Homo sapiens: one gene and its partner. The protein of the gene in region 1 purifies or fractionates together with the protein of each later gene. This does not show direct contact. Each region holds a gene or a part of one and is shown on either strand. Other genes may lie near its edges.

Evidence for each region.
Region 2: the proteins of PGLYRP3 (region 1) and DHTKD1 purify together in Homo sapiens (affinity purification with mass spectrometry; 3 studies listed by BioGRID and IntAct, with this or other methods). This does not show direct contact.

The regions. Positions count from the first base shown.
Region 1 is NC_000001.11:153,309,734-153,317,448, forward strand, and holds the start of PGLYRP3 (peptidoglycan recognition protein 3 precursor), read right to left. Parts: upstream 3,220-7,715; 5' UTR 2,910-3,219; intron 974-2,909; 5' UTR 933-973; coding exon 878-932; intron 1-877. UniProt on the Homo sapiens protein: Pattern receptor that binds to murein peptidoglycans (PGN) of Gram-positive bacteria. Has bactericidal activity towards Gram-positive bacteria. May kill Gram-positive bacteria by interfering with peptidoglycan biosynthesis.
Region 2 is NC_000010.11:12,120,650-12,123,721, reverse strand, and holds the end of DHTKD1 (2-oxoadipate dehydrogenase complex component E1), read right to left. Parts: intron 2,936-3,072; coding exon 2,834-2,935; 3' UTR 501-2,833; downstream 1-500. UniProt on the Homo sapiens protein: 2-oxoadipate dehydrogenase (E1a) component of the 2-oxoadipate dehydrogenase complex (OADHC). Participates in the first step, rate limiting for the overall conversion of 2-oxoadipate (alpha-ketoadipate) to glutaryl-CoA and CO(2) catalyzed by the whole OADHC.

The DNA of each region.
Region 1 (7,715 bases):
TGAAACCCACAGGACTCTCAGAGTGGAAGAGCAGCCCGCAGGCCAACACTGACACCTGGCAGGGCAGGAACCAGGAGGCAGGGATGAGGACCACACAAAACTCCCTGCTTTGCTTGGGCAAGTTAATTTCCCCATCAGGGCCTCAGCTTCTCCATTCATACAATGAAAGGCCTGTGAGTTTCTCTAACACTAACTCCAGGTAATCCCATTAAATTTGCTGTCTGAGTAGCAGAGGACAGAGAGAAAGCTATATTACATTTTTCCTTCCGAAGGGGGTCTGTGTATGTAAAACAAACTGAAAAACATGTCATATTTAAGAATCACCAAGCTCACTTTCATTTTAATTCAACAGCATTTATTTAATGAACATTGCTATGTGTCTACTCTTATGTATATAACGATAAGAAATCTTCTTAATCTAGAGAAACGGCATTGCTACTCTTGGGGAATTTGCTTTTATTTACAAATGTAGACCCAAGTGCTGGGTTTAACTATGACTGGTATAATAACGATGGTGACAATAATTAAATCATAGCTACAAATTACCCAGCACTAACTACTTGGGCATTGTGCTAAATGGCGCACACTTGTGATCTAATTTAATCCTCAAAAACAACTCTAAGAAATGAGCAATATTATCCTTTCATCATGGGAGCAAATAAGATTCCAAGAAATTGAATAACTTGTTGAAGACCATAACAAAGGACAGGCAAGGATTTGAAAAAAATCTGTAAACTCTAGAACAGGGCTCCAAATTGCAAAGCTACACTATCCACTAACAAAGTGAAAGCACTCGGATGGGTTTCTATTATTAAACTTGAGAACGGTCTTCTCTTGCTCATCAAAAGCACTTCTGATGCAAGTAAATAAAACTTACCCCAAGCCTGGAGACCCAGAATGAAGAAGGCAAGAAGCCATGGCAGCGTCCCCATGTGGTCCCAGGACTCTGACCGGGAGAGTGTGGACGGCAGCCCTGGAAGAGAGGCTAACAGTTAACACAACCATGCTAACTCTGCAAGTGGAGCACCCACCTACTATGTGGCACCACTGTCTGCCTCCCCTACCATCCTGTGGCTTCCTGAGGGCCAGCACCTGGCTCAGGCTTCTCGGGGCCCCTTAAACACATCAGGTTCCCAATAAATGTGAGGGCACTAATGGCTATGTCTAGCCACCGACTCCCCACCCACCTCCTGTTGCCCTGGGCAACTCCTGGTTCCTCATAGAAGCGCAGTGCCTGATCTTAGGCCTTTCAGGGTAGAAAATAACAATTTCTAAAATCCTCAAGGTAGCTGTTATGAAAAAACACTGTGTATTTATTTTCATATCTAGTGGTGCAATTTCATATTTGATTCAATTTTTATAGGTAAGAACATTGAGGCTCAGATGGAGTGAACTACAAGCAGAAGCAGGCTTGGCTTCGCCCCCTGCACCATTTGAGAGTCCCAGGTATGTAAAGTCATTCAATTCAGTCATCTACTCTGCAAAGATCCCTGACAGTTGTTCGACTAACCTCTTCTTTAGTGAGAATCATAATAACAGCTACCACTTACTGACTGCATTCTGTGTTCCAAGGTTTTTGCTGAGGACTCCATGGATATTCACTAAGTAGTCTCACAATGACCTATGAGACCCGCACTTATCATCAGAACACTGGGCCTCAGAGAGTTTGAGTCACTTGTCCTAAGTTTCCCAGATAATAGGGTCAGAGCCAGATTCATACCCAGGTCTGTCTGACTCCAGAGCCTCTGCCTGAAACTTCACAACCTGTTTGAGTTTCTGATGGACGTTCTCAATGTGGGCCCAAGAGGTTGAACTATAGGATCACTATAGTCTTTTCCAGCTCCAGGAATCTTTCCTGCTCTTTCAGGTAGAAGTGAATTGCTTACTCATACTCAGTCAGACTGAAACTTTAGCTGTATGAGCTACCACCCAAAACATCAACTTTCCCCCCAATTTTCCTACTGAGAAAATATAAAGTGGAGTTTGAAACCAAATGGGATAGATCATTGCCCTCCAGGGTTTTTAAACTGCAATCAGCAGTCCCCAAATGGAAAATTTTTAAAACCATGTCTTAAGAGTAGAACATGTGGAAGCCTCCTGGGTCAGGACAAGCAACCACTTAGCAGATAACACCCAGGATTCCATTCATTCAGGAAAACTGCAGTGAAGACAAAATGAGCTAATTACAAATGAGGCAGGCACCTAATAAATATAAGGAAAAATGTTCAGCCTCCCTCGTTAGTTAAATGAGAGGTAAGGATTCACTTTCCCAAGATTGAAGGCCTGTTAGGAGCTGGCCTCCTGCAAAGCTACTGGAAGCCACTATCAATTCTGGTTTGCACCCTGGTCACTTAATCACTGTGCTTCCACAACCATGAAACGTCAGTATGGCAAATCCTGCCCCAAGCTGGTCATATCATACATCCAAAATATCAAGGCTTCAGCCCAGTCCCTGACCTTGCCAGAGACAGAACTGATAATGTCTCCAATCCACACCATGAACTGCAAACACTAAGCTGGTAGGATAAGCTAGAGCCAAGGATTTACCACCTTGGCTCACATTGCTGTGCATCCTGTATACTGAAAGAAACATTAGACCAGGAGACAAGTGAGACATAATAGATAAGAATTTAGGGCTCTACAGAAAAGGAAGAAATTGGGTAGAGGTAACCTCAGAACCCACAGCCTTGCCAAGAAAGATCCAGCAGTGGTGAAACCAAACTCATTTAGAAGAATTTAGAATGAAGAAAATTTTCTTATTTGGAGAAAGAGTTCCAAAAAACGAGATCAGGGGAGCTTTCCCTACCATGTACACATTTTAACCCTATAGACTTCCGTCCCATTGCTGAATGAAGACTTCTAAAGAAATACACACACACACACACACACACACTCAAACTCACAGATACCTGTGGGTTCTGTGCTGTTCCAGCCCAGCAGGTCAGGGTGCAGTCGGCTCGCCCCTGATTGGCCAGCAGCTCCTTCCCTTCCAGACTTGGCCTCCAGGACCTGCCCTTCTTCTCCAGCTGGTGCCTCCTCAGGCCTTCACTCCCCCTGGCCCTAGAGGGCACTCCCTCCCTGGGAATGGAGCACTTGGGCTCTGGCTTCCCAGAGAGAAGAGGAGAGCCCAGGATCCCTAACAAAAGATGGAAGAGAAGAGAAAGGCAGAGGGCTGAGGCTCCAAGCCAGCTCTGTTTACAGCACCCAGAGAAACTTAAGTGGGAACAGACCCAGGCTGAGAGCACCTGGGGACCCGCCCTGTGAATAAGCCCAGGTAGCTCCTCCCTGGGAAAGGGTGTGATTGCCCAACACTCCCTGAGTTCCTTCCTCATCCCCAGCCCTTATGTCTTGTAGACTGGGGTCCCGGGGGTCCTGTCCCTGACATCTGGGAACTTCCTACCAATGAAGATCTATCTGTTCCAGGTTCCACTGGAGTCACCAGCAGGGGCAGGAGGAAGGGACAGAAATTGAAAAGCACATTCCCAGGAGGCAGCTAGCAATGTGTCATCACTAGAACTTATTCTGACCCTGTAGCTATCATGCCCATTCATCCACCACTTCATCTCAACTTCAAACTCTTCCCTTGAAACAAACCAAGGCTCTCCCCTCCTCACGCATTCCTGACAGTGGCCCTCAATCCTCAACTCTGGTCTCCAAGAATCCCTGTCTCTTCTCTGAAGAGGTTGATGCATAAGACTTTACAGTCAGGCTCAGCCAAGGGTACCTGAGCTGCAGCCCCCTGGATGGGGAATGCTCAGGCGAGAGGTCTTGGAAAGTACCATGCACCCTTTAGAAGATACTTGGATACCCACTCTGTTCTATACTCTGATCAGCCCAAACCACACTTCAGGGACAAAAGCTGAGGAGACCTCTCCTAGACCCCACAGCCTCACATGGCTGCCAGCATCTGAGGGAGACATGCTGAGTGACCTCCATTTTCCATAGGGTGGGGAATCTTGGGTGAGGACCTCAGAGACAGACATCTAGGAAGGGGACCGGGAATTATAGTTGGTGACAATGACAGACACTATGAGTCTGAAATTTTTATTTATGATTTTGGATCTTTTGCAATCATGATTAAGTCCTTAAAATGAAAATGGTTTATAAGCTCATCTTTAGAACAGCAAGTTAGGGAGAACTGAGAGACTGTCTCACTCTAAGACCAGACATGGAAGAGAAGAAACCCAAGTGATAAAGGGGGCAGTGACAGCCCACAAAAGGAAAGGAAAATGGGTAGGATCCTGCAGTCCCCAACTGGAGATCGAAGGACACCAAGGGATTAGCTGTCAGAAAGTCTGAAGCAAGACCACTGTTACCCAAATGGTATTTTCATTAAAATTAGAGAAAGTGTTCCTTCCACAGGTAAAAGTTATAGCTAATATGTTAATGCTAATGAAAGCAATTAGGATAAACAGCTACTTTGTATAAATTATGTAAATTGAATTATTAAACAAAATAGCACTTTGAATTTTTAATCACAATAATTAGGAACTCGAAGTCACTCACATATAATTTTTTTTAGTTATATTTTAAGTTCTGGGTTACATGTGCACAACATGCGGGTTTGTTACATAGGTATACATGTGCCATGTTGGTTTGCTGCACCCATCAACTCGTCATTATATTAGGTATTTCTCCTAATGCTATCCCTCCCCCAGCCCCCAACCCCCTGACAGGCCCCAATATGTGATGTTCTCCTCCCTGTGTCCATGTGTTCTCATTGTTCAACTCCCACTTATGAGTGAGAACATGCAGTGTTTGGTTTTCTGTCCTTGTGATAGTTTGCTGAGAATGATGGCTTCCTTCATCCATCATTGGATGAATGATGGATGGACCTTCATCCATGTCCCCACAAAGGACATGAACTCTTCCTTTTTTATGGCTGCATAGTATTCCTTGGTGTATATGTGCCACATTTTCTTTATCCAGTCTATTATTGATGGACATTTGGGTTGGTTCCAAGTCTTTGCTATTGTGAATAGTGCTGCAATAAACATATGTGTGCATGTGTCTTTATAGCAGCATGATTTATAATCCTTTGGGTATATACCCAGTAATGTGATGGCTCAGTCAAATGGTATTTCTAGTTCTAGATCCTTGAGGAATTGCCACACTGTCTTCCACAATGGTTGAACTAATTTACACTCCCACCAACAGTGTAAAAGTGTTCCTATTTCTCCACATCCTCTCCAGCATCTGTTGTTTCCTGACTTTTTAATGATCACTATTCTAATTGGCGTGAGATGGTATCTAATTGTAGTTTTGATTTGCATTTCTCTAATGACCAGTGATGATGAAGATTTTTTCATGTGTCTTTTGGCTGCATAAATGTCTTCTTTTGAGAAGTGTCTGTTCATATCCTTTGCCCACTTTATGATGGGGTTGTTTGTTTTTTCTTGTAAATTTGTTTAAGTTCTTTGTAGATTCTGGATATTAGCCCTTTGTCAGATGGATAGATTGTAAAAATTTTCTCCCATTCTGTAGGTTGCCTGTTCACTCTGCTGATAGTTTATTTTGCTGTGCAGAAGCTCTTTAGTTTAATTAGATCCCATTTGTCGATTTTGGCTTTTGTTGCCATTGCTTTTGGTATTTTAGTCATAAAGTATTTGCCCATGCCTATGTCCTGAATGGTATTGCCTAGGTTTTCCTCTGGAGTTTTTATGGTTTTAGGTCTTACATTTAAGTCTTTAATCCATCTGATTTAATTTTTGTATAAGGTGTAAGGAAGGGATCCAGTTTCAGCTTTCTATATGGCTAGCCAGTTTTCCCAGCACCACTTATTAAATAGGGAATCCTTTCCCCATTTCTTGTTTTTGTCAGGTTTGTCAAAAATCAGATGGTTGTAGATGTGTGGTGTTATTTCTGAAGGCTCTGTTCTGTTCCATTGGTCTATATCTCTGTTTTGGTACAAGTACCATGCTGTTTTGGTTACTGTAGCCTTGTAGTATAGTTTGAAGTCAGGTAGCATGATGCCTCCGGCTTTGTTCATTTTGCTTAGGATTGTCTTGGCTATGAGGGCTCTTTTTTGGTTCCACATGAACTTTAAAGTAGTTTTCTCCAATTCTGTGAAGAAAGTCAGTGGTAGCTTGATAGCATTGAATCTATAAATTACTTTGGGCAGTATGGCCATTTTCATGATATTGATTCCTTCTATCCATGAGCATGGAATGTTCTTCCATTTGTTTGTGTCCTCTTTTATTTCATTGAGCAGTGGTTTGTAGTTCTCCTTGAAGAGGTCCTTCACATCCCTTATAAGTTGGATTCCTAGGTATTTTATTCCCTTTGTAGCAATAGTGAATGGGAGTTCACTCATGATTTGGCTCTCTGTCTTTTATTGGTGTATAGGAATGCTTGTGATTTTTTCACATTGATTTTGTATCCTGAGACTTTGCTGAAGTTGCTTATCAGCTTAAGGAGATTTTGGGCTGAGACAAGGGGTTTTCTAAATGTACAATCATGTCATCTGCAAACAGGGACAATTTGACTTCCTCTTTTCCTAATTGAGTACACTTTATTTCTTTCTCTTGCATGATTGCCCTGGCCAGAACTTCCAGTACTATGTAGAATAGGAGTGGTGAGAGAGGGCATCCTTGTCTTGTGCTGGTTTTCAAGGGGAATGCTTCCAGCTTTTGCCCATTCAGTATGATATTGGCTGTGGGCTTGTCATAAGCAGCTCTTATTATTTTGAGATACGTTCCATCAATACCTAGTTTATTGAGAGTTTTTAGCATGAAGGGCTGTTGAATTTTGTCGAAGGCCTTTTCTGCGTCTATTGAGATAATCATGTGGTTTTTGTCATTGGTTCTGTTTACGTGATGGATTACATTTATTGATTTGCATATGTTGAACCAGCCTGGCATCCCAGGGATGAAGCCGACTTCGTTGTGGTGGATAAGCTTTTTGATGTGCTGCTGGATTCGGCTTGCCAGTATTTCATTGAGGATTTTCGCATTGATGTTCATCAAAGACATTGGCCTAAAATTCTCTTTTTTGTTGTGTCTCTGCCAGACATTGATGTCAGGATGGTGCTGGCCTCATAGAATGAGTTATGGAGGATTCCCTCTTTTTCTATTGATTGGAATAGTTTCAGAAGGAATGGTACCAGCTCCTCTTTGTACCTCTGGTAGAATTTGGCTGTGAATCTGTCTGGTTCTGGACTTTTTTTGGTTGGTAGGCTATTAATTATTGCCTCAATTTCAGAACCTGTTATTGGTCTATTCAGAGATTCAATTTTTTCCTGGTTTAGTCTTGGGAGGGTGTATGTGTCCAGGAATTTATCCATTTCTTCTAGATTTTCTAATTTATTTGCGTAGAGGTGTTTGTAGTATTCTCTGATGGTAGTTTGTATTTCTGTGGGATCGGTGGGGATATCCCCTTTATTATTTTTTAGTGCACCTATTTGATTCTTCTCTCTTTTCTTCTTTGTCTTGCTAGCAGTCTATCAATTTTGTTGATCTTTTCAAAAAACCAGTTCCTGGATTCATTGATTTTTTGAAGGGTTTTTTGTGTCCCTATCTCCTTCAGTTCTGCTCTGATCTTAGTTATTCTTGTCTTCTGCTAGCTTTTAAATGTGTTTGCTCTTGCTTCTCTAGTTCTTTTAATTATGATGTTAGGGTGTCGATTTTAGATCTTTCCTGCTTTCTCTTGTGGTCATTTAGTGCTATAAATTTCCCTCTGCACACTGCTTTAAATGTGTCCCAGACATTCTGGTACAT
Region 2 (3,072 bases), on another chromosome or scaffold:
ATCTTTTGAACCCAGGAGGTGGAGGTTGCAGTGAGCTGAGATCGCACCACTCCAGCCTGGGCGACAAAGTGAGACTCTGTCTCAAAAGAAATTCGGAGAGATTTAAAGTAACCTTTTATTTTTTGAGACAGAGTCCCGCTCTGTCACCCAGGCTGGAGTACAGTGGTGCAATCTCGGCTCACTGCAACCTCCGCCTCCCGAGATCAAGTGATTCTCCTGCCTCAGCCTCCCAAGTAGCTGGGATTACAGGCATGCACCACCATGCCCTGCTAATTTTTATATTTTTAGTAAGAGACGGGGTTTAGCCATGTTGGCCAGGCTAGTCTCGAATGCCTGACCTCAGGTGATGCACCCATCTTGACCTCCCACAGTGCTGTGATTACAGGCGTGAGCTACCACGCCCAGCCTAAACTAACCTTTTACAAAGATCTAATCTTCCATCTCATTTTTGTGCTTAGACTTTTGAAATCTTTTAATTCAAGAAGTCCAGGAGTCCTGAGGAAAAAAAATGACAATGTGCTTTTATTTTTTTTCTTGTTAAAAAAAAACAACATTGGTAAATCGTTTTCATTAAATAGACCTTTGTGATTTTACTGATTTACATGAGTGGCACTAAATTACATGATTTATAAGGCTTGACACAGGAAGGATACACTGAGGTATATGGTAAGAAAAGGGATATGAATACTAGAGAAATGTTAAATTGATAACTAAGGCACACTTTCGGATGTGAATCATAAATCTACCACTGTGGCTAGAACAGCCTATATGTACATGGATTCTGAAAGACATGATCAGTTGCTGGTAAAAGTAGAGAGGGCCTGGGCTTCTGCCAGTCCCCTGGTACTTCCCACACCACTTCAGAGAAAAAGCATCATGACACAAGCACAGTAGATGGTAGAGGCCCCCAGCACTGAGTCAGGTGAAGCTACATGGTTCGCTGTTTAGTTACGTTTCCAGTACTTGGTTTAATTTCACAGTGAGGGAGTCGGTTGGTGATCTCTAAGAAATCCCCAAGCACCTGGTGTTGGGAAAGTCCCTCAAATAAAGAAGTGTTCTTTTCTTTTTTTTTCCTCTCTCTCTCTTTCTATTTATTTATTTTTTGAGATGGAGTCTTGCTCTGTCACCCAGACTGGAGTGCAGTGGCAGGATCTCAGCTCACTGCAACCTCCACCTCCTGGGTTCAAGCGATTCTCCTGCCTCAGCCTCCCGAATAGCTGGGATTACAGACACCCACCACCACGCCCAGCTAATTTTTGTATTTTTAGTAGAGACGGGGTTTCACTATGTTTTGTCAGGCTGGTCTCGAACTCCCAACCTCAGGTGATCCACCCATCTCAGCCTCCCAAAGTGCTGAGATTACAGGCGCAAGCCGCAGCGCCCAGCCAAGAAATGTTCTTTAAACATCACAAATAAACATACTGCATCAGGGACTTGTAGGGACAAGACTGATTAACCAGGGGCTGAAATCCCCATATCAGAAACCCCAGACAGTTAAAAATAGTAAGATATCACTGTAAGAACAATTTAAAGAAAAACAAGTTTACGGCAAAACAGACTACAAATCAATTTCATTATAACTAAAACTCCTTAATTTAAAAATACAGTACTAGAAGATCATCCACCCAGAGATTTGTATTTAGTAGGACCTAGATTTGCTAGTGTTGGGGAGACACTTCATACAGTGACTGGAAAGCAGCACCAGAGATTACATAAAATGAAAATATTAGTACTGCCACAGGACTTTCAAAAAGGAGGGGGAAAATTAATGAAAGTGACATGCATCAAACAAATCAAGAGGCAGTGTTGAGGTCATCTCCACGGAGCTGTAAACTCAGAAGTGTTTCCTGGTCATATATGGTCAATTAGGGTCAAGTCTGAAATCATCTAGATAATGACCTAGTTTTCCAGCTCACTCAGAGCTAAAATCCATAACACTATCATACTTTCCTTTTAATTTATGAGATGGAGTCTTGCTCTGTCGCCCAGGTTGGAGTACAGTGGCGCCATTTCGGCTCACTGCAACCTCTGCCTTCCAGGTTCAAGCAATTCTCCTGCCTCAGCCTCCGGAGTAGCTGAGACTACAAGCGCATGCCACCACACCCAACTAATTTTCATATTTTTAGTAGAAACGGCGTTTCACCACGTTGACCAGGCTGGTCTTGAACTCCTGACCTCAGGTGATCCAGCCGCCTAAGCCTCCCAAAGTGCTGGGATTACAGGCGTGAGCCACTGCACCCAGCCATCACACTTTCTTTTTTTGTTATTGTTTTTCTTTTGTTGTTTTCCTATTTCTACCATCACACCTTCAAGGATAAATTTGCTGGTTGCATTCACATATTCATAACCAGTTCCCCTGGTTATTCCACCTATTGCAGATTAAATCACGTATATCAATCCCAACATCTTAGAGGAATACAGTCTTTTCATGTTACCCAACAGAGGGGTTGAGAGAGTGGAGGAAGGAGGCCTCTTTTAATGGGTTTTTTTTTTTTTTTTTTTGAAACGCAGTCTTGCTCTGTCACCCAGGCTGGACAGCAATGGTGTGATCCTGGCTCACTGCAACCTCCGCCTCCCAGATTCAAGCGATTCTCTTGCCTCAGCCTCCCAGGAAGCTGGGATCACAGGTGCCCACCACCACACCCGGCTATTTTTTGTATTTTTAGTAGAGGCGGGGTTTCACCGTGTTGGCCAGGCTGGTCTCGAACTCCTGACCTCAGGTGATCCACCAGCCTTGGCCTCCCAAAGTGCTGGGATTACAGGCATGTGCCACCCCACCCGGCCTTAATGGCCATTTTCTTAAAGAGAAATAGTGTTTCTTCAAAAGTCATCATCAAGCGAAGGTCTTGGCGAGGATATCTTCATGCTGGTGCAAGTGAACTGTGCCAATTCCTACAGCGGGTACTGGCAAAGGGGGCCGGCCCACCAGACGGAGCTATAAGTGCAGCAGAGAAGAAATAAAATGACATTTTGACTAGATCAGAGCTCTGCTTAGTTCCAACAAGACAGTGCATGTATTTCTCTTAGCTTGTTTAACCATAAATCACCTCTTTCAAATAATGAGTTACGCAG